Regions from separate parts of the Homo sapiens genome. Here all the other regions are reported to be linked to region 6. The links are microRNA targets in miRTarBase. Many come from high-throughput screens and were not tested one by one. Region 6 holds a microRNA gene; each other region holds the end of a gene's coding sequence.
What was found. The annotated mature microRNA hsa-miR-6823-5p reads UCAGGGUUGGUAGGGGUUGCU and lies in region 6 at 1,378-1,398, opposite strand. An mRNA with a match to its seed (bases 2 to 7 or 8) in the 3' UTR can be bound and repressed. Matches are read on the target gene's strand: a 7mer-m8 pairs with bases 2 to 8, a 7mer-A1 pairs with bases 2 to 7 and ends in A, and an 8mer does both.

Region 1 (4,071 bases), not on the chromosome of region 6:
CTTGGAAGGACAACAGTCATCCTAATGCATAGTCTCATTTCTATATAGTACAAGTCTGCAATTACTGAAGAGACAACTGCTTAAGATCAGTGAAACTACTTACATCAGTTACCTTCAACCTTTAATTTTCATAAGGGAAAACGAAAAGCTTTCTAAAATTTTCAGTTAAACATAAAGATCCTTCATATAAGGAGAAAAATATAGCCAACCTACTCAATTTTGTATTTGAGGAATGGAGAATAAACAATTACACAGTTTTGACAGGATCCCATAACAGCAATCAAATAATGATGAGAAGCAGTTACACAGACCTTTTAGAGAGAAGTTTGTGCTAATAGAAATATGCAATGTATTTTAATTAAATAAATAGCACTGATGTGACCCCAACTTTTTGATATCCATAGTTGGTGATATATATGACCACTTATTACATTGATTTTCTGGAGTATTATAACACAAATTTATAAATGGTTTTAAGAAAATATTATAGAGAAGTTTTACTGACACTTGGAATTTTACATGAAGGGGAAAGAGACATAGCCAATGGCATCCCAGTAATAATTTCTTTACACATCTGATACGAGAAACCACAGAAACATTCTTAACTGATACAACATGAATTAGATTCTAAAGGCATTCTTTAAGACATAGAGAAAAAAGAAACAAAGAAAATTCTCAAGTTTACCATTTACAAGAATAGTTTATGCAATTTCAAGAAGTCCTTACCAAGGCATTCAACAGCACTGTAAGTTCAAAGTTCATTTGGGAATTAAAAGAATGAATAAAATACTCCTTAGAGGGAGTACAAAGTTTATTCAAACATTTTAGAAATAATCAATTAATTACATAAGTATATAGTGAAATCTGTCAAAAACAATGTCAAGTAACTTGTTTTTAAAGTGGCAACGCAATATAGTAAAGCAATGGCTTTAATGACTAAATGAAAGAATCACAAAGCACCTAGAAATATTTATTGAAGAAATAATAAACAAATTTTCATGATTTATTTTGTCCATTTGCAATTTCAGTATTTTAGCTCTATCTCATATCATTTTTTGGTAGGTGCTGTTAACATATGAGGTTAAAGTGGTAAGTCTCACAATAAAGTAGCCATCTTCTTTGAATATTTCATCTCTTCATTTCTATGAATATAATCATCTTTCAGCTGCATGATTCCTTCAGCCTGATTCTCATTTCATGTCTCAATAAACGTGTTTTTGCCTGATAAAGAGAACTGTGCACATATTGATTCTGCTTTTTTATCTTTTTTTTTTTTTTTTTTTTGAGATGGAGTTTCACTCTTGTTTCACCGCTGGAGTGCGATGGCTCAACCTCGGCTCATTGCAACCTCCACCTCCTGGGTTCAAGCAATTCTCCTGCCTCAGCCTCCTGAGTAGCTGGAATTACAGGTATGCGCCACCACGCCTGGCTAATTTTTGTACTTTTAGTAGAGACAGGGTTTCACCATGTTGGTCAGGCTGGTCTTGAACACCTGATCTCAGGTGGTCCACCCACCTCGGCCTCCCAAAGTGCTGGGATCACAGGCGTGAGCCACCATGCCTGGCCTATTTATCTTTTCATACTGCTGTCAGGTCCTTCAAGGCTATGCTTCTGATTGCCCACACACTTTACTTCTGAGTATTTCATATTTTACGGGTAGGTAGGGTACCAACTTAGTATGTTAGATAACCATTGTATAGTAAAAACCAGAAATGAAAATATAATAACCCTTATAACTCCTTACATATAAGAAAGACAGAAATACATCAAAGAAAAAACATTTTAAATAATCTCAGGAAACAATAACAAGATCCTCTCCCCGAAAATAAATATAACAAACATATTAGTAACCATAGCTAAACAAACACTGTAATATAAGAACTCCATTAGACATAAGAAATAGACATTGAAGCCAGGTTTTGACACTTATTCTCCACATCCAGCCAGTTGTCACCAGTCTAGTAAGTGCTACAGGGTTAACTGCCTCTGGACTGACTGAAATATGGTTGTACTTACACAAAAGAACACTGGTTCAGATCCAGCAATGACTTATGAACTTGCCCATAGGTAGAAAAAAATAGCTTACTGGATTTATATCTGCTTCATAAGAGACTTTTATCTGCCAGCCTGACCCCTCTTAAAACTTTTTTTTTTCTTTTTTGGTTTGATATACTCAATAGGCACTGGCTTTTTTTTGTGATGTGGCTTTTTTTGTGATGTGGCTTTCCACACTATTGTAGAAGTCCAGAATCCCATTTAATAAGATGCATGAGCTATTAGTCAATGAACTTTAGGGCTGGATGGATCAACGAAGTGTTTTTCACTGCCCCAGCTTCCTTATGAACCAGATTACTGACCAGCGGTGAACTACAATAAATTCGAAGACACAACTAACAAAAACTTAGGAAGGCCTGGAAGAGAGGTGCCAAACTGCACTGCAAATACAAAATAAAATATTTTCATGTTCTTGATAAATATTTATAAAAAAATATACATATAATGAATAGGCCATTTTATAATGCTAGTTAAAACTTTGAAGAGCTGTTAAATCTGTAGGTCCATCAATATCCTGGCTTCAAATCAATATGTAGAAATATTTTTAATTAAATTTCAATAAATACACCAGAGGGATTTAAATATGATAAAAACAGTAATTTCAATCTCTGTTTTTACCAACAATATGTTTAATTAGTTCGTGATGGGCTTGAACTAATCAATAAACTACAGTCTACAAAAAGGTTTTTGTAAAAATGCATTCATTTCTGATAATAAATAAATGCAGATTGATTCTGTACAGTCAGAAAAACCAGGATGGTGGCAAATAGCAAAATAGAGAGATGATAAATCTTGGATCCAAAATCAAATGATCAAAGAAGACAGTTAAAGATATTTTCAGACTGCCCACATTAGAGTCATGTAATCTGCATCATTCTTTCTCAAGGTCTCTCAATTGGGCACCAGAATAACATCAGATCTAAAACCTTGTTCAATATTTCCTCTGGTTCACCTTTTGATTATGTAACAAATACTTTTTGCAAAAGATGAAAAAATAAAACTGTAAAATCATTTGGATGGAGTTAGCCCAGCTAGGTCTTTTGGTGTCCTAGCAATTCAAACTGAAATTAAAGGCTTCTTATAGCCTATAAGCTTCTGAAAATGCAGCTAAGTGGCATTCAAAAAGACAGAACATTTTTTCTACTTCCGTAAATATAAAAGAAATTGAAAAATCACCACCTAGAAAAAAAAAGCTAGGCATAAATTCATCAGCACCAAGTAGAAATGATCTTCAAAAGGGGCAAGTCTCTTATGTATCCTTGTGTTAATGAATAGGTACTAATCTCTCCTCTAGGAAAAACCCACTGCCTGACGTTAACATCTTTAGGCAAAAGAAAAGGCAAAACTCAACAAATTACATTTTGATTCATCCAAATAGAGAGAGAGAGAGAGATTTCAAGATTTTTGGCACTACTTTAAGCATTTTTCAGGGTAGGTATGATTTTAAGTTCGACTATCTTCTTCCCTACTCCATTATTTGCAAAAGCAGGAAGTATCAAATTTAACTCTATTACTAATAATTCTTCAGGTATCATTCCAAAAGTTGTACTTAGTCACAATACAACAGTTAACATTTAAATAAGACTCTAGTTGCAGTAAAAAGTGTTGAAAGGTGGTCATATCAAAATCTTGGTTTTCTTTTGTACCTATCAGATATGACTAAATTGTTGGTGGCCAGAACTCAAATCACATACAGTCAACCACATTATTGGATCCATGACCTACATCTCGAATTTGGCTAGTTAAACAGGAACACACAGCTACTCCTGCTCCAGCTCTGCAGTGAGACACAGATCCAACAAGCTCCCACCTGAAAAGACGGAGAAGAAAAAATGTTACAAAGCATAATTTACTTTACTCAAAATACTAACCAAAGACAAAAATTCCCTATGTGAGACTGGTTTTGTAGGACAGCAAGCTTCCAGTGGGAGATAAGATATCCCAAAGCTTAGTATTAACTACGACTAGCAACATTTTAACACTCTGAAGTAATCTACTATTATACCAGAAGATAAT
Region 2 (4,088 bases), not on the chromosome of region 6:
TGAGGATCTTACTGATGTTTAAGGAGTGATCTGAATGAAGTGACAAAGCCAGGCATGTGAATAACTAGGGAAAAGTGTTCCTGGCAGAGGGACCATCAAGAATAAAGGCCCTGTGGTGGGATGAACGGAGACTATACAAATAAAATTTTGGCATAGTTATGGCACAAAATGAGCTGTGATTAAGGCTCTTATAATCACTACTAACTATAACTGTCATTAATGACACTGTTAAGAGTCATAATAAAGGGGCTGCAATATGGCTTGGGCAAGAATTGACTTCTGACCGTTATTCTGAAATCCTGGCATAGGTTGTAAGAGTTGGTGTCTTTCTCTCTCCCATTCCCAGGGCCCCCCTGGAGCAATGCACACCCACCCACCCACCCCTCCATCTCCAGCACACAAGCGTCCCCCCTACTGCTCATTACATTCTGTCCATGATGGTTTCTGATGTCTACTACTCAGGTGAATTTCAAGGATTGCATCCACTTTACCCCCACCCCTTAAAGAGAGCACCCAGGACAAAGCTCTGCATGAAGTACAGATTGTGAATTGGTGTTGACTCTTGGGCTCCTCAACCCACTATCTCCTTCCCCCATCCCATCAGATAGAGAATGGCCTGATTTTGGTCTGGAACAGAAAAAGCAGAAGTGCCCCTGAGGATCTTGTTCTTAATAGACTCACAGGCCCCTCCCTGTCCTGGACAAACTCTTGTGGCTCTTAGGGTGGGATCAGCATGAGGAAGGAGGCTCCTGCTATAGTTTCTTGTAGGTTATTTTGCAACCTAACTTCTTCCCCTCTTGCTTTCTCCACGGACATCATCTGCTCCCAGACCATTTCCCTCCCATCCCTGACACTTGCTATCTCTTTGTTGCTTTCCCTACAAGCCGAGTTCTGCCACAGCACATATTTCAATATCACGATTTAGGAGGGAGGCAAGTATAAAGTGTAGAAATCTGAATTATGGAAGAGATTTCTTTTTTTTTCATAAAGAAATGCCACTTTATTATTTTCAAGTACATAGGTAGTACCTCAAACTAATGTCTTACAAAAGGTCACCAATAAAGATCCTGTAGATGTTTCTTTAACAAATACATAAAGATTGATGATAATTAGCCCATGCACTCGCTGCTTCTAAAAGGATATTTCTAAAGTGCCTGAAAAGTATTGTTTTTGGTAGACTAAACATGCCACCTCTAGCAATATTGTTTATGCTCTTAATTTACTAAAAAAATGCCATTTTTATTGATTGTGCAAAGATAAACTTTTGTCCACAGTTAGTAATCTCCAATTAATCGGATCCAAATTAATATTGTCTCCCACTTAGATTCCCAGGCCCAAGGCAATGACTCCCTTACTTCCTTGCTTCTGATAAAGCAAAATTCCAGTGCAATGAAATGACAGCCTTTGGGAGGTGGTTTATGGGTCTGACCCAATGCTTGTCTTTTGTGCTTCCTTCCTGTCTGCCTTAGGTCTTCCATTTTCCTCAGATGTCTTTCTCACTTGCATGACCTATCTAGGTCTCTCTCTACAGGACATTCCCAGTGCCTTCTAAGCCAGGCTTAGAGAATGGGCAAGGCTGCCTGCAGAGCAAAAGTGTTAGATAGGGAGTAAGGGAAAGAAAGCTATCTCCTGTAGGAACCTGAAACCAACTCTCCAGCCCAGGGTAAGTGGGCACAATGATCGTCGGTTTGAAGGGCATTTGCCTGGAGGGAACAGCCCTGCCACCTAAGACGTCAAAAGCAAATCATTTTTTTTTTTTTTGAGATGGAGTCTCACCCTTTCGCCCAGGCTGGAGTGTAATGGCACGATCTCAGCTCACTGCAACCTCTTCCTCACAGGTTCAAGCAATTCTCCTGCCTCAGCCTCCTGAGTAGCTGAGATTACAGGCGTGTGCCACCATGACTGGCTAATTTTTTGTACTTTTAGTAGAGACAGGGTTTCACCATGTTGGCCAGGCTCGCCTCGAACTCCTGACCTCATGATCCACCTGCCTCGGCCTCCCAAAGTGCTGGGATTACAGGCATGAGCCACCGCACCCAGAAAAAGCAAATCTCTTAGTATTTTTCCTCTTGTCCAAAGGTTCTGACCATGTTCATGACCTAAGCTTGTCCCTGGAAGCATACATGTCCCTGGGAGACAGGAAGGTTCAGGGAACTTCTCCACCCTGATTCTAGCCAATGGCCAGCGAACTCCTTTTCCAGGGTTGGCTTGGCAGTGTCGGGGAATGATGCAGGTTCATCGGGATGGGCATGAAAAGAAAGGGAATGGAAGAGGCTGGGAAAGAACTTGTGGCCATCCCTTTCAGAACAGCATGGAGCTCTGAGGACTTAGTATTACAGAAGGTGAAGTGTTATTAAGTACATGAGTGACATCCGGACCTTGTGGACTAAGAGGACCCCTAACCAAGGGTCAGCGGGGAACTCTGTGGCACACAAGTGTGGCATTTCTGGAAGCTCTTGATTGCCTTCTGGTCCTGCCTCTGCTGCTACCCTGATGAGATCTGAGTTTGTTCTGCTGGTGGGGTATTCTAAAATGTGGGACGTAGAGCTGGAGTCCACGACATCTATCTGGAGACTCATGTCAAATGTCCTGTCATTGGCACTACCTCACTTCCTTTGTTGTTTCCTTCCTCCAGCCAGCCCTACCTCCATCTCCCACCTGTCTGCCCAGCTCTCCCTGAAGGTCCCTTACCAGCCTCGACTGGGAGACAAGTCCACCTTTTCCAGTCTCAGGCTCTTGCACTCACCAGAAGAACCTTTTGTGATTGCAAGGTCTGAAGGGGAAGCCAGGGATAGAGTCCTGCAGGAAGCTAACGGGGGTGGAAGTGGGAAATGGAGTGAGGCTGGGGTGATCTGAGAGGGCTTCCTTCTGGTTTAGATGGGTTCCTGCTTTTGGATGCTGATCTATTACAGTAGGAAGTGGGGTTGAAGGGATGGGAGTGGGCAGGGTGGGGTAACCCTTAATTCCTCAGAAAAAATAGACAACATAGTGGAGTGGGATGGAAAAGGATCTGGTCGGGGGGACTCTAACACATAGTGTCTAATCTGATTGTTCACAGTTAGGTCTATGGGGTCATCACCCCAATTTATATACCCCGCAACTTAGCCTGCTGAGTTGCCTCATTATCTCTCCCCAAATGTTGCCACCCAATGCCACCCGTTATTTCCATCCCTCTCCATCACCATCCCCACAACACCTCCAGAGCTCCCCATCTTTCCATGCCTGGTTCTTCTTCCAATGGGGTCAGTAGTATGTCTCCTTCTCCACCCAGCCTGTTAGAGAGATTGGGAGTGGAGATTGCAGCATGAGCTTAAAAGGAGGCAAGAGATCAATTTCCTAGGGGCTTGGGTCGCTGAAGCCAGGTGGAAGGAGAAGCCTGGTGAAGGGCACTGGGGGAAGTGGCTTAGGAAGGTGGAAGGAGGCTGGGTGCAGTGGCTCATGCCTGTAATCCCAGCATACTGGGAGGCTGAGGCAGGCGGAGATCAAGACTCCTGGCTAACCCAGTGAAACCCTGTCTGTACTAAAAATACAAAAAATTAGTCGGGCATAGTGGCATGCGCCTGCAATCCCAGCTACTCTGGAGGCTGAGGCAAGAGAATTGCTTGAACCCAGGAGGCGGAGCTTGCAGTGAGCCGAGATCGTGCCACTGCACTGCACTCCTGGTTGGGCGACAGAGCGAGACTCCGTCTCAAAAAAAAAAAAAAAAAAAAAAAAAAAAAGAAGGTGAAAGGGAGGAGAAGGAGGTCCAGTGAGCTGGGGCCATAGGTTAAAGGAAGGGAGGGTGAACCTGCCTTTAGGGGAGACTTGTATTTAGCACATTGGAGGCTGGGGCAGAATAGGTCGAGGGTGAAAATGCAAACGCCCACAGGGCCTCTTCAGGTGACGAACGAGAGTCTAAGGGAGCAGCTGTCCATTCTTGCTGTGCAGAGATGTGGACATGGGATTAACAGCTCTTCTGATCTTCAGGAGAAGTCGAATTCAGATTTTATGTGAAAGACCCTAAATTTTCTATATCGGACCAATTAATCCACCCTCCTCCCCCCACACACACAAAATATGGCACAGGTCAAACCAAACAGTATTCCTGG
Region 3 (4,088 bases), not on the chromosome of region 6:
GATCTCAAAACTATTTTAAGCAAAAGCATGTCACTCACCAAGCATTCACGAACTCAGAGCCAACTGGTGTCCTCACTCCCAGGTTTTGCAAAGGTCCCTTCTCTTCCTTGCCAAGGAAAAAATGTTCTCGTTCTGTATCGCGGAATTAATAAAATCGCCAAGACTTTGCTATAACTTTCCGTGCTTCCTACTCTCGAATAGTGAACCTGTCTCAATATCGGAAAAGACAGAAGCGACTGCCCTCTTGCGGGCACTATTGTCACTGCATCTATTTTGGTATCAAAAGCACTAACTGCACTTGAGGACCAGGTGTTTCACCTTCTTGCCAGGTGTGGGTGAGAGTCACGCACGTAACTGAGTAGGTATTGATCATCTCATCTGAATTTTGTTCTACATCTCAACAGGTGTTGCACACACGAAACACTGCAACTATTTATAAAAGTGTGCTTATAGGAGCTTTCGTCTTGAGACGGAGTCCCACTCTATTGCCCAGGCTGGAGTGCAGTGGCGCAATCTCGGCTCACTGCAACCTCCGCCTCCCGGGTTCAAGTGATTCTCCTGCCTCCGCCCCCCAAGTAGCTGGGATTACAGGCACCTGCCATCACGCCCGGCTAAATTTTATATTTTTAACAGAGATGGGATTTCACTATGTTGGCCAAGCTGGCCTCAAACTCCTGACCTCAGGTCATCCACCTGCCTCGGCCTCCCATAGTGCTGGGATTACAGGAGTGAGCCACTGCACCCGGCCTAGGAGTTTTATTTATTTATTTAAAACAGTGTTTAGATACCAACTTGGCTTGCGTTTTCAAACATATTTATGTTATCTGTTTTTGAAATTAACATACATTTGGTTGTAGTAAAATACATGATATAGTTTGGATATTTGTCCCTGGCCAAAGCTCATGTTGAATTGTAATCCCCAGTGTTGGAGGTGGGGCCTGGTAGGAGGTGACTGGATCACGGGGGCGGTTTCTTAGGAATGATTTAGCACCATCCGCTTGGTGCTGTCCTCATGACAGTGGCGGTTCTCAAGGAATCTGGTCGTTCAGAGGAGTGTGGCGCCTCCCCCTCTCTCGCTCCTGCTTTCACCATGTGACGCGCCTACTCCCTCTTCGCCTTCTGCCTTGATTGTAAGTTTCCTGAGGCCTCCCCAGAAGCCAGGCAGATACCAACATCATCCTTCCTGTACAGCCTGCGGAACTATGAGTCAATTAAAACTCTTTTCTTTATAAATTACCCAGTTTCAGGTATTTCTTTATAGCAATGTGAGAAAGGACTAACACAACATAAAATTTACCATTTTAGCTATTTTTAAATGTATGGTTCAGTGGAATGATTAGGTAGATTCACACTGTTGTGTGGCCATCACCATGACTGATCTCCAGAACTCTTTCTTCATCCCAAATAAACTGTGTCCACTAAACACTAACTCTCCATTCTCCCTCACCCCTCAGTGCTTGGCAAACATCACTTTACCGTCTGTCTCTATGACTCTGACTGTTCTAGATACCTCCTATAAGTAAGATCATATAATACTTGTCCTTTTGTGACTAGCTGATTTCACTCAGCATAACGTCCTCAAGGTTCCCCCATGTTGTAGCATGTGTGAGGGTCTCCCTCCTTTTGAAGGCTACATAATATTCCACTGCATGTATATACCACATTTTGTTTACCCATTCACCCGTCCATGGAATTTGGGTTGTTTTCATCTTTGACTATTTTGAAAAATGCTGCTATGAACATAGGTGTGCAAATACCTCTTTCAGACTCTGCTTTTAGTTCTTCTGGGTATACGGTATATCTGGAAGTGGGATTGGTGGGTCAGATACTAATGCTATTTCCATTTTTTTTTTTTTTTTTTTGAGAAACTGCCATACTGCTTTCCCCAGTGGCTGCACCATTTAACATTCCCACCAACAGTGCACAACGGTTCCAATTTCTCCACATTCTCTCCAGACAAAGAAGATGTTTTTAAAGACCAATGCTGACATATAACAAATATAGCAATTTTAAGTCATTTCATTTTATTGAATTATGTAAAACATCTTTAAATAACAGTAAAAAAATTAAGAAACCATTGCACAAATTCAGTCACAATGATGGCATACTACAGCCCACAGAATTTAAATCTCATGTGAGTTGAGTTAAATTAATTTGCTGGTACAAAGAGAATATAATGCTCTTCCTGCTGGGAAATTATTTCCACATATTCACATTGTATAGGGATTCTGAACTTGTGATATTTTCAATAAAAGGTCCATATCTTAAGAATTTGAATTTAGGGCTTATCAATGATCTTGAAATACAGGGGTGGAGACAGGTTGGCAGCAAAACAAACTGCTCAACTAAGCAATGAAGAAAAATCTGCCTCTGTATCCAGATAGAAATGAATTTCAAGTGTTAAAGAGGCATCTCTCACGCTGCTCGAGGGTGGAAAAATCTTGTCAACTGGCAAAAGGGAAATACTCACTAATCACTGGGCATTATGAAAAAGTACAAATTCCTTACAGGTACACATTTGCCTTATCTGATTTTATGTTTCTTCTCACTCTGCCAATTATTTTACAAATATAAAAAGAGTAGTTTTAGCAGAAAAAAGGGTTATGGAGTGAAATACTAATAAGCAATAATGGAATGTAACCAGGGCAATTTCATACCTGCCAAGGAGCATAATTAAAAGAGAATACAAAAATCTAAAGGTGAACCTTGCTCCTATACCAAAGTAAAATCGATTTATTCCTTATTTTCTAGTCTAATCTAGTATTTCATTTCCTACTCAGTTTTCCTTTTTATAAGAGTAAAACATTTTTTGGTTGAATTTAGAACTAATTAAAAGCATTATGGTAGCTTTAAATTTTGTAGAAAATTCATTTGTATAAAAACATTTGTCTTTAATGTTTAAAACCATATATTATTAGAAATATCATGGGTGTATATAATGCAACATAAAAATGTCCAGCTTTGACTGTGGAAGCACTAGCTGGTCTAGACTATTTTGAAATATCCAAAAATCACTACTCACTCATTGTGGGCCACCTTGCCAATATCAAGTGAATGAATCCATAGGTTTGAGGTGTTACCCTCTCATTCAAGGTTTAAAACTTTTATAAAATACCTGCAATGTTTCTTTGAAATATCCAGCTACAAACAGGAGAACAATTCTAGACACTACCTCAAACTTGTGTCATCCATTGTCATGAACTTAATTGTTTCAAAGAAAATGCTAAAAATTTCTAACTTGCTTTAGGAATTAGGGGCAGTGAACATGCAACCTGACTCTCTCTCACTTATCCATCGTGTTGAGGAGCATTTCACACCTTAAATGCTAAAAACTTCTAACTTGCTTTAGGAATTGGGGGCAGTGAACACGCAACCCGAATCCCTCTCACTTATCCATCGTGTTGAGGAGCATTTCACAGGTCACGCCTTCATCCACTTCCTCTTTGACTCTGGCTGTGGTTTCTCTGCAGGCGACAGGAAACATCTCTCCTGGGAACTGTTCTCCCTTCGTGGTGGAAGCCTCCTCAGCAGCAGCTTCTTGAGAAAAAGTCCAGGATGAGCAAATTTATCAGAAAGCTAAGGAATTGGAATTTATAAACTGTGCAAATATATTTTGGAAACCATCACTTAAATTTGAACACGGCAGCAAGCATGTTAGAAAACAATCTAATTGATAAGATGGTACTATTCTGATCTCAACTACTGCCTTCAGTCAGGGCTTCTTAGCCTCAGCGCTACAGACGTTTGGGGCCAGAGAGCTGTCTGCTGGGGGCAGGGCGCTGTTCTGGGCACTGTAGGATGTTAGCAGCGACCCTGGCCTCTACCACTAGATGCCAGTAGCACCCTCCTCTCCAGCTGCAAAAACCATAAAAATGTCTCCAGACATTGCCAGTGTCCCCTGAAGGTGACGGGGGGGGGGTGGGGGGGGGACACAGTCATTCCCAGCTGGCATCAGCTGCTATAGGTGAATGTGGATCTTACAGATTTATATCGAGGCGGATCTCAGAGATTTATATTGTGGCTGAGCTGCTCACCTAAGTCTTGTCCCAGTACCCATGTAATGATGCTGCCTACATGAAGAAAGCCAG
Region 4 (4,088 bases), not on the chromosome of region 6:
AATTACCACAAATTACAAAGGACTAAAGCAGGACTAGAATAATGAATGAATCACTTCAGCCTGGAAAGCAGATACTCTCAATAATATTAATGTTATAATACAAGCTCATTCAAGTATTTTACATTTTTTTGTCCTTTTAAATATGATATCCTAGCACATAGTAAAGATAATGTACTACGAGCGTAAGGTGGAACCTTCTCCGCAAAGCCAGATGACAAGTTTTCCTCTCCAGTGAGAAATGGGCTCCAAGTTCTTATCTTCTCTGCCATCAGCATGGCTGAAGGGGGAGAGGGTGGGTGTTAGGGAAAATCCAGGGACCCTTCCACACAGGAGGTACTCTGGGGTTCCATTCAGGAGGGTGCCAGATAATTCAGATCACTCTACCCAGGCTTTTTGGCAAAAAACAACCCTCACCCTCCGTAACTAGTCATCTTCCTTGTCCCTCCTCCTCACTTCCCTTCCAGGGCCTTCTAAGCAGCTTACTTTCTTTTGTAAAATCAATCACCAGGAAAGGGGAAAAAAAAAAAAAAAGAGCTACAATGGAACAAAACAAAAACATTTAACAACTTTGACACAGGGGCTCAGCACCTCTATCTGAGCCCCAGGGGTCCAGGCTGGGGCACGGCTGGATGGCCCTTCTCTACTGGTAGTGCCTTTGCTCCCAAGTGCAGGAAGAGGGCTAAAGAGAAACCTGCCCCTTAACAGGGCTGAGGCACACAGACCTGCTGATGTCTGATGCCCAGAGGTTATGTTGGCATGGACCAACCTTGGAAGGGATAGGATGAACAGAGGGATCTGGGCAGGCTGTTGCTTTATCTCAGGTCTTGGATCCCCATGGGACGATGGTAGGTGTGAAGTGGTTAGCCCTGATGGCCCCTGCCACTTCTGGCATGCTTGTCACAGATACATCGGTCCTAAATTCAAGTGTCTTCAGAAAGTGAAGATGTAAACTACTCTTTGCAACATTAACTCCTAACATGTTACCAAAAACAAAAACAAAAACAAAAACAAAAAAAAAGGAAAGAAAAGAAAAAGCTCCCCTACCAACCACCAGCCGATGTTGAGATGAAGTCCTCACCTCCCTGCCCCAAAGGGGCTTCCTTTCAGGGATGTCTGTGAAGAAGATGGCAGCCCCCTGGCCTGGGAGTAAACTCTAGGTAATAACAGCCTTTCCCCATACCCTAAGGCTTCCTTGTGCCCCAAACCAGCAGAGGAAAAACACTGAGGTTTCTGTGGTGCTGGATACAGTACAGGGCTGCGTGACCTGAAGGAAAGAAAGGAAAGGAGAAGGGGGTCCAGGAATCCAGTGTCCGGTACAATGTGGGGCAGGCACCAGACTGGGCAGGGAAAGGCCTCGGATACCACCATCATAGCAGAGACCAGACGCTCATCCTTGGTTTGAGACATGAAGTCACAGGAACTGAGATGGGCTTCCCACATACCAACCACTGGGAGGGCAAAGGTGGGGAAGGGCACAGGCTAAAAATTAACAAGGTGCCCAAGGTAAAGGGCAAGCCCTTGTCAGCCTGGGATACTGTCTCCTACTCCCAACCTTTGGGCCCAACAGAGGAACCAGTTGAAAAGGAGGGCCAAAGACATTGCAGTAAGTAAGCAACAGGACAATGAACTCCATGTTGCCCAGATCCCACTGAGAGTGAACGTGCAGTCATGCCCATAACCGACACACATCCCAGTCCATGTGGGTCAGTCCTTCATCACCCTCCCTGCCTTCTGACAACAGCAGACTCCAGCCATTCCATTATCATTCACAGCCCAACCCAAGCAGTCAGTGGCTGAAGAAAGAGAATCAGGTATACTCTATGTCCACATATACCTTCCTGCCACAGGGCTTCACCAACTGGCAGGATTCCCCCCAGCCCCCAACTCCTCCTCATCCCTTGTTCCCAGGCGGGTCAATTGGAGAGTGAGCAGAGATAGATGGCTTGCAGAAGGGTATGCAAGATGGGGAGACTCCACCAGACCTTAGGGAGAGAATGGCATCTTTCTCCACCTTTTAAGAGAGACAGAGCCTCCCTGAGGTCTCAAAGATTTTTCAGGGCAACACAAGAAACGTTTCCAAGCCTCAGCTGCAGGTGTTCACCTTTCCACTCTGGGGTGTGAGGAGATGGTAAGCTGAGGACAAGTGTGTTCCAGATGCAGGCCAACTCTGTTCTCCAACAGTTTGAACCAACTTGGCCTTGGGGTTCCAAGGGTAGGATGAAGGGTGTCACGGCAGGACGGGGCCTGGCGTGAGGCAACAGCAAGCAGAGCGAGGACACAACAGTGGCAGCAGTGTACAGACACAGGACGTCAGCTTCAAACGATGCAACAGCAGGGATATCTTGGGCACGGCTCTGATTCGAGCCACTCCCAACTCTCTTGCCTCCAGGATGGAGGCACTGTACATGCAACAGTCCAGAGAAAGATTCTAGCCAGTCCAAGCCCAGGCACATCCAGAGAAGGTGGGAGCTCTTCGGGTTGACTCCACCGAGGAAAACAGGCATTTGGGTATTTCAGATTCCCGCTCCACAATAAGGCAACTTTTAAAAAAATATTATTTCCAAAAACAAAACAAAAATTCCAAGGGGAGGGGAAAGACATTACTTTCTGTGGATTAGGTGGGGGTTTTCTGATTTTTTTTTTTTTTTTGGTCTTTTATGGTCGATTTTGTCTTTTTTCTTCTTTTTTCCCCATTTTTTCAAGGATGGAAAGGTCAGAGAAAAATAAAATAAAACATCTTTCAATAGTCTTTCCTGGTAAAAGCAGCGTCTCTCTGGGCTGGGGAGTAAAGGGTGTGGGGCAAGGGGAGTGGGGAGAGGCTGAAACCTTCCCCCAAACCCCAGTTTTAGATCCTTTGGTTTCCTTCTCCCAGAAGATGGCAGAAGGGCATGGTGGGAACAGCAGGGAGAAAATATGGTGATGACAAACCCCAGATGATCAAGGGGCTGATGCTCCTGGGGCCCAGAGGTACCACCAGAGCCTTCTATGAGACAGTGCTGGGCAATGGGGGGGCCCGCAGGGCCTTCTTGTGGGCTGCATAGTTGGCTTGAGGGGGAGCAGGAGGTTAGGGGTGGGGACCAGGGTTGCAGCCTACTAGCCTCGGGCAGGGCTGCAGAGTGATTTTGGTAATCCAGATGAACTATCAATAATTTAAAACTTGATATATATATATGTATATATATATAAAAATCTCCCCCCTTTCCCTCCCCCCTTAGAAGAAGCTAGGATGTCAAGAGTCATGGAGAGAGGAGGGGGAAGGGGATGTAGAGGCTCCTGCCCAGGGGTACCTCTGATAGCCCAAATGGTGTATACATTGCTACTCAGCACAAAGGCCTGTCCTAGTAACTCCAGGCCTGTCCCTTCATTGTCCCCTTTCCTGGGACTGGGCACCCCCATGGACTCTTACCCACCCTACCCCTTTCCCCCCTCAAGCCCCAGGGCTAAGGAGCTTTTCACTTTCCCAAAGTCTGTGTGTTCGAGTGCTGGCTTGTCCATTTGGCATCTTCCCGGACAGGCTGGCCGGTGGGTGGTGTAGGGGGTTGGCTGATCATGGCAGCAGGCCTGCTGGAAGACTGGGAGGGGCACCGCTTCCTGCCCTCACCGCCGCCACCTCCTGCTACCACTGAGTGTCGCTTGTGGTTGCCCTCCTCACCCATGGGGGGCTGCAACAGAGGAAGGAGTCACAGGTGATCAGAAGCACTATCTACGCCCTCTTCCTTGCCAGGCCCGTCTAGACACTTCCTACTTTCTACCTCCAAATATAGAAAATGAATGGGTTTAACCTTAAAAATAAATTATAAGTTATTAAGCGTTTCTTCATGCCAAGCCTTGTGCTGTTTTATGCACACTCTCTCATGGGGTCAGCATCACCCTTTGATGTGGACCCATGGACATCTGATTTTATAGATGAGGAAACTGAAGCACAAAAAAGTAACTTCCCCAGGGTCTCATAGCTGGTAACCGATAAAGACAAAATTTAGGTCTACCTGCCCCAAAAGGCCAGGCTTTTATCCAACCTCATTTCTGCTTCCCTTCCAAGAAGGGATCTCTTGCTCAGAAATGTGGAATGTGGCATGCAGTATGCTGCG
Region 5 (4,088 bases), not on the chromosome of region 6:
GCTAGGAGTTGGGTGGGTCAGGGTTCAGCCCAGGTCTGAGTCTGCAGCCCGCCTGGCCCACCCTTGGCTGCTATGTCACTGCCTGGTGCGCTCTGTCAGTTTGGGGCAGGAAGTGGACATGTTGGTGGCTCTGTAAGTGCACGTGAGCCAGACCGTGTTTACCGCACTTGAAGAACAGGTGGCGTGAACTCACAGGAAGGGCCCGAGCACCCAGCCAGGCTGACCTGGTTCTCATCCCAGCCACTCACTGCCCTGCGGTCTTGGTCAAAATCTTCTCCCCCGAAACAGGATGAGGATGACAATGACGCCTGTGTCCCTGGGTGGTACCAGGGAGGTGGGAGGGGTAAGCCCAGAACCCACGGCCATCTTGGGGAGCCACCTGGAGGGATGAAGCGAGGTATCTGCGGGGAGGTCTGGCTGCTGGTGCTGCCCATGTGCCCGGTTGGCAGGGCTGGAGGGAGAGACTTCATGCCCTCATACCTGCCTCCTGCCCCCCAGGACAAGCGCTTCACCTCGGGAAAGTACCAGGACGTCTATGTGGAGCTGAGCCACATCAAGACACGGTCTGAGCGGGAGATCGAGCAGCTGAAGGAGCACCTGCGTCTTGCCATGGCCGCCCTCCAGGAGAAGGAGTCGATGCGCAACAGCCTGGCTGAGTAGAGGTGGATGCCGAGGCGTGTGCCCTGCAGGGTGGGCAGGGGCTGAGGCTCTCCCACACCCGGGACTCCCTGGACCACCCCAGCCAGGCCACTTCCTTCTTCTGGCCTCCAATTCCCGTTCTGTAAAAAGGACAATGAAACCAGCAACACGGGGTTGTTGCAGAGATCCCATCAGACCCGGGCCACAGGCTGCTTCATCAGCTTAAGCCTGTTCCTCCAGAGCTGGGCGGCACAGTGCAGAGCCACAGCCTACTCAGTGCACCCCCCTTCTTGGGGCTGGAGGCAAATGCAGCGTGCACATCCCTGACCCCCACAGTGAATCTCCACTGAGCTTCACACACACACATCGCACGCTGAGGCCGGGCTTCTATCCCAGTTAGTCTTAACACTCCTTCTTGACTTAGCAGGGCTCAAAGTGGTTGGTTGGTTGGTTGGTTGGTTGGTTGGTTGGTTGGTTGGTTGGTTTTGGTTGCTTTGAGAAAGGTCTTACTCTGACACCCAGGCTGGAGTGCAGTGGTGCAATCACGGCTCACTGCAGCCTCAACCTCCTAGGCTCAAGGGATCCTCCCACCTCAGCCTTCTGAGTAGCTGGGACCACAGGCCCTCACCACCATGCCCAGATAATTTTTGCACTTTTTGTATAGGTGGGGTTTCGCCGTGATTTCCCAGGCTGGTCTCGAACTCCTGGGCTCAAGCAATACACCTGCCTCAGCCTCCCAAAATTCTGAGATTACAGGTGTGAGCCGCTGCACCTGGCCAAAGTGTTCTTATTTTTGCTTTTTCAACGCCACATCTACCTGGAGCATCCTCTTTCTGATAAGTCCTCATGGACTTCCTATGGCATGCAGGAGAGGCCACCCTATGGCTGAGCTGCTTGGGAAGGAGCCAGGAAGAGCGGATCTGGCTGTACCTTAGGGGCTGAGAGGTGGTGGAAGGACCCACTCAGCACCCTTGCTTGGCCTTGGGGTGGCCTCGCAGCCCCTCAGCCCAGGCCTCAGCCCTGCCGCACCTTGTCTTTCAGGTCCCGCCCAGCTGCAGACCCTCCAGGCTGGAGGACCAGCCGCCCTCCTTCCCTCCTGGATGGAAGTAAAAAGCCAAGCTTTCTCCCCACCCTCTGTGGGCCACACGTGCACTTGCACCCACCACACACACACACACACACACACACACACACACAGACACACAGACACATACGCACACACGTGCACACATGTACACACGGATACACACACACACACACACACTGCATATCTGAGCGCGCCCCTCGCACTGGGTCTCACCTTGCACCTTCTTCAGGATTTTATATGTGAAGAGATTTTTATATAGATTTTTTTCCTTTTTTTCCAAAACACTTTATACTTTAAAAAAAAAAAAAAAAAGCAATTCCTGGTGGCTGTGTGCCTCCAACCCTGGTCCCCCTCTGTCTCCAGCCACCCTCTGCTTGGGCTTCTGAGCTGGTGGCCCTGGCCCAGAGGTCTGGCGGAGGCCCAGGCAGCAGCCATGGCGGGGTGTCTCTACAGGGGAGAGGCGGGAGCCTGCCACCCTCTTCCTGCCCTACCTCCTACTAACACTTCCTGCCCCATTTGGACCCGTACCATGGGGCTCAGGACAGAGGGAGCTAGCAGCTGGCCTCCATGGCCCCACAGCCTCCTTCGAGGCTGTGCTGGGTGCAGAACCGCCAGAGCCACCCAAAAGGTGTTTCTCTTCTGCTCCCTGAACCTCTTAACTTAATAAAACGTTCCAGCAGCTCTGGTGTCCTAGATGGCTGGCAGAACAGGAATGGAGATTGGGGTTTCTTGAAGTGGCTTCCCCACTCACACCCTACCCACACCCCACCCTTCCTAAAGCAGCGGCCTCTAGGCTTCTGAGGGTGGGGCTGAAAATCCAAGGTCTCCCTTAGTACAGACTGTGACGCCCCCAGTGTGGCTTGCAGGCTAGTGGCAGCGGAAGCATGTGGGAAATAGCAAGTCCAGTCCCACCCCAACCTACTGAACCAGCGTCTGCATTTTAACAGGGTGCCCCAGTGATTCACGTGACCTTCAAAGTCTGAGGAGCCCTGGAGTAGGGCCCAGGGCCCAGGCCTGAGAGAGAGGCCTGGGGCTAAGACTAGCCCTGACCATGACCTTGGGCAAGTCACACCCCTCACTGAGCCTCAGTTTGCTTCTCCATCAAATGGGTGTTTTTCTTTCAGTCCCAGTCCTCTCCTGAGGCTTTTCCCAGAGGTCATGCCCAGCCCTGGGCAGGGGTGAGGGCAGGGTTGTGGCTGCCAGGCACAGGTCCAGCGGGCTGGGAGTCCTCACCATGGCTGGCTGTGCTGATTATGGTTGCATGGGGCTGGGAAGAGGTCCCATTTCTGAGCCACAGAAACAGGCCACATCCAGTAGGGGTCCTGGAAGGCTGTGAGAACCCAGAGGAGACCCTGACCCAGCCTGCAGGTAGAAGACTGCCTTTGGAGGCAGCTTTGAAAGATGACTCTTCCAGATGGAAGAATCAGGAAGGGCCTTCCCACGTGGAGGCACCAGCAGGAGCAAACGTCCCTGGTGTGTTCAGGCAAAGAGCCACAGGAGAGTGACCTCGTGGAGTGGGAAGAGATTGTTTCCCATTCCCTTGCCAGGGATTGGTTGAGGAATGGACAAGGCTTGCAGTTCACGCAAGCCAGTGAAATGCGAGGGGAAGTCTTGGGAGTGGGGTGGAGGAGGTCATCTGGGAAGGGTGTCCTTGGTCTTAAAAAGAGGCACAAGAGGCCGGGCGCGGTGGCTCTTGCCTATTATCCTAGCACTTTGGGAGGCCAAGGCAGGGGGATCACTTGAGGTCAGGAGTTCGAGACCAGCCTGGCCAACATGGTGAAACCCCGTCTCTACTAAAAATACAAAAAATTAGCCAGACGTGGTGCCAAGCACCTGTAATCCCAGCTACTCAGGAGGCTGAGGCAGGAGAATCACTTGAACCCAGGAGGCAGAAGTTGCAGTGAGCCAAGATCGCGCCACTGCACTCCAGCCTGTGTGACAAGGGCGAAACTCCATCTCAAAAAAAAAGGGGGAGGGTGGCGCAAGGAGAGGACACCTCTCTCCTGGCCCTGTCGCCATCTTCCCTCATCAATAGCTAAAAATGGCAAAGAAGAAAGAGCCAGGACCCCGTGCCATCAAATCCTCCGGCCTTGTGCTGCCCTGTCTCGGCACTGCTTGCCTTAGGAGATCAGGAGTGTTCCTAGCCACTGGGAGATGGGATGCCTGCCACTGGCAGCTCTGCCGTCCATCCTCACCATCCCACCGTCCCCCCAAGACAGCTCTCCATCCCATCCTCTGCCTCCCTTCTAGCCTCAACCTAACTCAGGGCTCCCCCGTCTCACACCTGGGTTGCAGGAACATCCTCTTCACCAACCCCCCTCCCATCCCTCCTCAGGGCTGCCTAGGGCAGCTACAAAAACCA
Region 6 (4,088 bases):
TGTGCGAGACTCCTGGCCTGTCTGAGCCTCAGTTTCCTCATCTGTAAAAGTAGGGGGTGACAATGGGCATCAAGAACCCAGCACACGGTAGGTTCAGACATTAGTCCTCTACTTTTTATCTGGCTCAATATAACCAGAGGGTCCAGCCTTGATTTTTACCCACAATTTGGCCATAGAAACCTGAATATCAGGCTCCCCTTCCCTTCTTGGTGCCACAGCCTGGCCCAGCCACACCGATGCAAGAACAAAGGCAGTCTCCAGTCTGAAGGTCCAAGCCCCACAGCAGGGAGTTCCTGCCCCCTGGTGGCCAGAGAAGGAACGGGTAGCCTAGTGTGGACCCCAGTGGCAGCCTGGTAGCCACTGGGCTTGATTTGGGGAAGTCACTAGAGCTGGGTCAACCTCTGCTCACTGCCCTATCCTGATGGCTGGGCCAAGAGCAAGTCTCTGCCACCCTAGGTTGATAAGGGGCTTCTCAAGACCACAGCTAACACCTCCTGAGAAAAGCACAGCATGGCTGCTCAGACCACCAGCTGGTGCTCAGTTCCTTGAAGAAAGGACTCAGTTCAAGTCTGAAAGTTGTTGAGGGTGGGGCGGTAGCATATACATATTTCTATCTCCAGAGTAACAGCAGAAGTGTGAACGACTCACCCAGCAGCATCTAGGAGATGTCAATGCAAAGCCAATCGCACCAGCAATCACACACCAAGAACATGCTCCAAATACACAGGAGAGAGCTTATCCTGGGGCAAGGGAGGAAGCCCCCCACCCCCAGCTCCATCCCTAAGGCCTGTATGCCTGCACTCACTCAGGTTCCCTTCCCCAGCAGCAGCCATCCCCACGGGGCGCTGGGGTGAGCGAGCGTGACCTCCAGGCAGCAGCTCCAACGACCTGCATGGGCTGAGCCCCTCTTACCTCCCTGAAGCTCTGTCCTTCCCAAGGGTTCCTTAACCCCAGGGCAGGAATGGCCCAGCCACCAGGAGGCCACACAACACACCCTCTCCTCTCATCCCCAAACCCATCACCTCCCACCCCCACCACATCCTGAGAGATCCAGAGACCAGCCTTGTCACACAGCCCTGTCACACAGCCATCAGGGCTGGGCAAGGCCAGGGCTCAGGAGTAGCTCAGTCATTCACCAGCAGCTCCACTCCAGGGGCTTCTCAGTAAATGGTCAGTAATGTGTTAGCTTTCTCCACACTGGGTCCCCCAGCAACCTCTCCCCCCACACCCAACACATATACTTACTTCCTGATTTTCAGGCCCTCTTCATTGTCGGGGAGAAAAAATTCAAAAGATTTGTAGGTCTTGACCACGTCCCGGCGATACTGGCCAACATTGAACTCTGGAGGGAAGGAGAGGCTCAGCTTTCACAGCAACAGCAACCCCTACCAACCCTGACCTTGACCCAACCCCAGGCCAAATAATAGAGAATAGGCCTTCTCTATTCTCTTCGTCATGCCCCACAAAGCTCCCCTTAGACAGCTGGGGCCAAGCCTCACCCCGAGTGGGCACACCAATCCAGTTCAGGTATCGAGTCAGCTTCTTGGAGATGTAGGTCTTGCCCCTGGCGGGCAGGCCCACCATGACAATGAGAGTTGGGCAGTTGGTCATGCACACTAAAAGGCAAGCAGCACAGTGTCAGATGAGGGCTGGGACCCTCCCAGCGCACCCCTCCCTCTCAGCCTGTGGTCTCTCAGCCTCAGGGCATGGGACTGGCATCAGACGTATCTTCTTGGCTTCCTAGCATCCCCACACAGCTCCTGGAGTGGCCCCAGATGCTGGTTTCAAGCCACCGTTGGCATGTCCCCCTTCCCCAGGCCCGCCTGGGCTCTGGCAGACACAGTGGGATCTCTCCAGCCCTTTTCATCCTGATGTGCACCACCAGGCATAAAGTCAACCGAACTTGCCACTGGCTAAACATGGCTAGGGGGGTCCCCACCGCATGAAGGACAGGACCAAAACCCAGCAGGGTAATCAACACCCTGCCTCTGTCATCCAGGAATCCATACCCTAACCTTTTTACATCTCTCCCACCCCATCCATCACTCAGTGCTCCCAGAACACATAGCCCCACTGCATGCCCTCCCTGTGGTGAACTTCTTTTCATCATACAAAGCCCAGCTAAAAAGTCACTTCCTCAATGAGTCCTTTCCCCAAGGCATCTCCATGGCCACCGGGAACACCCCTCACCCTCAATCCTGGTCACCTCACTAATGACACTCTTCTCTCTAGACTGATCACTTACAGCAGAAGAAGCCCTGTGGTATCTGAGCCCTTTAGGGCCCTGGGGCCTGGCACAGCGCTGGTGCTCAGGAACTGTGGGCAGGATCAGGGAGGGAGGCATCTAGAAGTCTCTCAGGGTAAGGACCACAAGGGGTTGAGACCAGAGACCCAGACTGATGCCCACAAGGACAGTCCCTCTGATAGCCCACCCACCACCATCCATGTGCCACAGGTCAGTGTGCCAGCCAGAGAAGATGCCAGGCTAGAGGCACGGAAGGATCTGAATACAGCCCCCTATATTCCCAGCTGGCTAGAACAGATACCAAGGCAGCAGAACTGCCAGCTTCATCTTATGGGACCTAGCTCACTTTTCTTTTTTTTTTTTTTTTTTTGAGACGGAGTCTCACTCTGTTGCCCAGGCTGGAGGGCAGTGGTGCGATCTTGGCTCACTGCAACCTCTGCCTCCCAGGTTCAAGCGATTCTCCTGCCTCAGCCTCCCAAGTATCTAGGATTACAGACACCTGCCACCACACCTGGCTAATTTTTGTATTTTCAGTAGAGACGGGGTTTCGGCATGTTGGTCAGGCTGGTCTCAAAACTCCTGACCTCAGGTGATCCGACTGCCTGGGCCTCCCAAAGTGCTGGGATTACAGGTGTGAGCCATCACCTCCAGCCTTCTTTTTTTTTTTTTTTTTTTTTTTTTTTTTTTTTGAGAGGGAGTCTCGCTCTGTCGCCCTTGCCCAGGCTGGAGTGCTGGAGGACACTGGTACCCAGCTCACTGCAACCTCTGCCTCCCGGGCTCAAGCAATTCTCGTGCCTCAGCCTCTCAAGTAGCTGGGATTACAAGCACATGCCACCACACCTGGCTAATTTTTGTATTTTCAGTAGAGACAGGATTTCATTATGTTAGTCAGGCTGGTCTCGAATTCCTGACCTCAGGTGATCTGCCTGCCTCGTCCTCCCAAAGTGCTGGGATTACAGGCGTGAGCCCAGCCCTCAGCTCAGTTTCCAGTGCCATCAAACGCGGTCTCACGTCAGAAGCCTCAGGAAGCTTCCTTTTCCTCATCCTTAGGACCTGGGTCAGGTAAAACCATAGCAGACAGGCAGATGAACAGATGTGGGGACCTGTCACTGCCCCTCTTCTTGGTTCTGCAAGTGCCTTCACCTGGTTGCCTAGACAGACTGTCCCCACCAACAAGTTGTTTCCCTCAGAGCACAGAGGCCCCAGAAGCACTTCCGCAGGGGATCAGGAGTCAGGCCTGGGTTGCCATCTTGAGTCTGACACTCATTGGGAACTCTGAGCCTCGGTGTCCCCAGCTGTAAAATGGGGCAGTCATCCCTCAGAGAAGCCTAGTGCTATCCAAGAGCCTGGGCACTTCTGGGAAGCTGTGCCCTCTGTCCTACCCTGGCGGATACTGAGCTAAAGCCATAGGTGTACCTCGGCACCGACTGCCCTTGGGACTCAGGGCATGGAGGCGGTGGCCTGGCCCCAGGCAGGCCCTGCAGAGAAACAAAGGGCCTTGCTTGCCAGTGGGGGCTCCATCACTCCTGTGCATTCCCCTTGTTTAAAGGTGACCCAAATGGTGAGCCTCAGGGGCGGGAAGGAGGAGACCCCATGAAACAGGCTGACTGAGTGAGAGTGGAGAAACTTGCAGAGAACTCTCAGTATTAGCTAAGGTGAGAGGAAAACAAGTTAGGCAAGGCCTTGCCTCCTCAGGGCCGGTGGACAGCTGAGGCCCGCATTGTGCATTGTTTGCATAGTTCCCGGCCAGGTGGCCGGGCTCTCAAGCAACCAAGGGCAGTGCGACAGCTGCTAAGCAGGAGGAAATCCTGCATCTACCCTGCTCCCGCTGATGGGGCCACCC

Region 1: miRTarBase lists KLHL8 as a target of hsa-miR-6823-5p. Seed matches in the 3' UTR shown: 7mer-A1 at 3,482-3,488, 7mer-m8 at 1,972-1,978 and 7mer-m8 at 1,455-1,461.
Region 2: the mRNA of ATP1A2 is a reported target of hsa-miR-6823-5p. Seed matches in the 3' UTR shown: 7mer-m8 at 2,199-2,205 and 7mer-m8 at 1,933-1,939.
Region 3: miRTarBase lists CTCFL as a target of hsa-miR-6823-5p. The part of its 3' UTR that is shown has no 7-base or 8-base seed match.
Region 4: miRTarBase lists LARP1 as a target of hsa-miR-6823-5p. Seed matches in the 3' UTR shown: 7mer-m8 at 3,079-3,085.
Region 5: the mRNA of TRIOBP is a reported target of hsa-miR-6823-5p. Seed matches in the 3' UTR shown: 7mer-m8 at 2,065-2,071 and 7mer-A1 at 3,076-3,082.

Annotation. Positions count from the first base shown.
Region 1 is chr4:87,159,778-87,163,848 of GRCh38, forward strand. It overlaps KLHL8 (kelch like family member 8), which reads right to left. Exons shown (of 10, transcript NM_020803.5): 10 at 326-3,865. The coding sequence ends at 3,742. Among named protein-coding and RNA genes, the nearest start is that of KLHL8, 59 kb to the right of the region's middle.
Region 2 is chr1:160,140,478-160,144,565 of GRCh38, reverse strand. It overlaps ATP1A2 (ATPase Na+/K+ transporting subunit alpha 2), which reads right to left. Exons shown (of 23, transcript NM_000702.4): 23 at 975-3,272. The coding sequence ends at 3,244. Among named protein-coding and RNA genes, the nearest start is that of ATP1A4, 9.1 kb to the left of the region's middle.
Region 3 is chr20:57,495,165-57,499,252 of GRCh38, forward strand. CTCFL (CCCTC-binding factor like) reads right to left here. Exons shown (of 11, transcript NM_001386993.1): 11 at 2,002-3,537. The coding sequence ends at 3,386. Among named protein-coding and RNA genes, the nearest start is that of CTCFL, 28 kb to the right of the region's middle. RefSeq lists an enhancer at 3,697-3,746.
Region 4 is chr5:154,813,461-154,817,548 of GRCh38, reverse strand. LARP1 (La ribonucleoprotein 1, translational regulator) reads right to left here. Exons shown (of 19, transcript NM_033551.3): 19 at 1-3,662. The coding sequence ends at 3,453. Among named protein-coding and RNA genes, the nearest start is that of MIR378H, 14 kb to the left of the region's middle.
Region 5 is chr22:37,772,103-37,776,190 of GRCh38, forward strand. It overlaps TRIOBP (TRIO and F-actin binding protein), which reads left to right. Exons shown (of 24, transcript NM_001039141.3): 23 at 499-662; 24 at 1,681-4,088. The coding sequence ends at 660. Among named protein-coding and RNA genes, the nearest start is that of H1-0, 31 kb to the right of the region's middle.
Region 6 is chr3:48,548,619-48,552,706 of GRCh38, forward strand. MIR6823 (microRNA 6823) reads right to left here and starts at 1,403; the gene lies at 1,343-1,403. It overlaps PFKFB4 (6-phosphofructo-2-kinase/fructose-2,6-biphosphatase 4), which reads right to left. Exons shown (of 14, transcript NM_004567.4): 2 at 1,500-1,616; 3 at 1,246-1,342. RefSeq lists enhancers at 1,814-2,477, 2,478-3,139, 3,140-3,803, 3,804-4,088.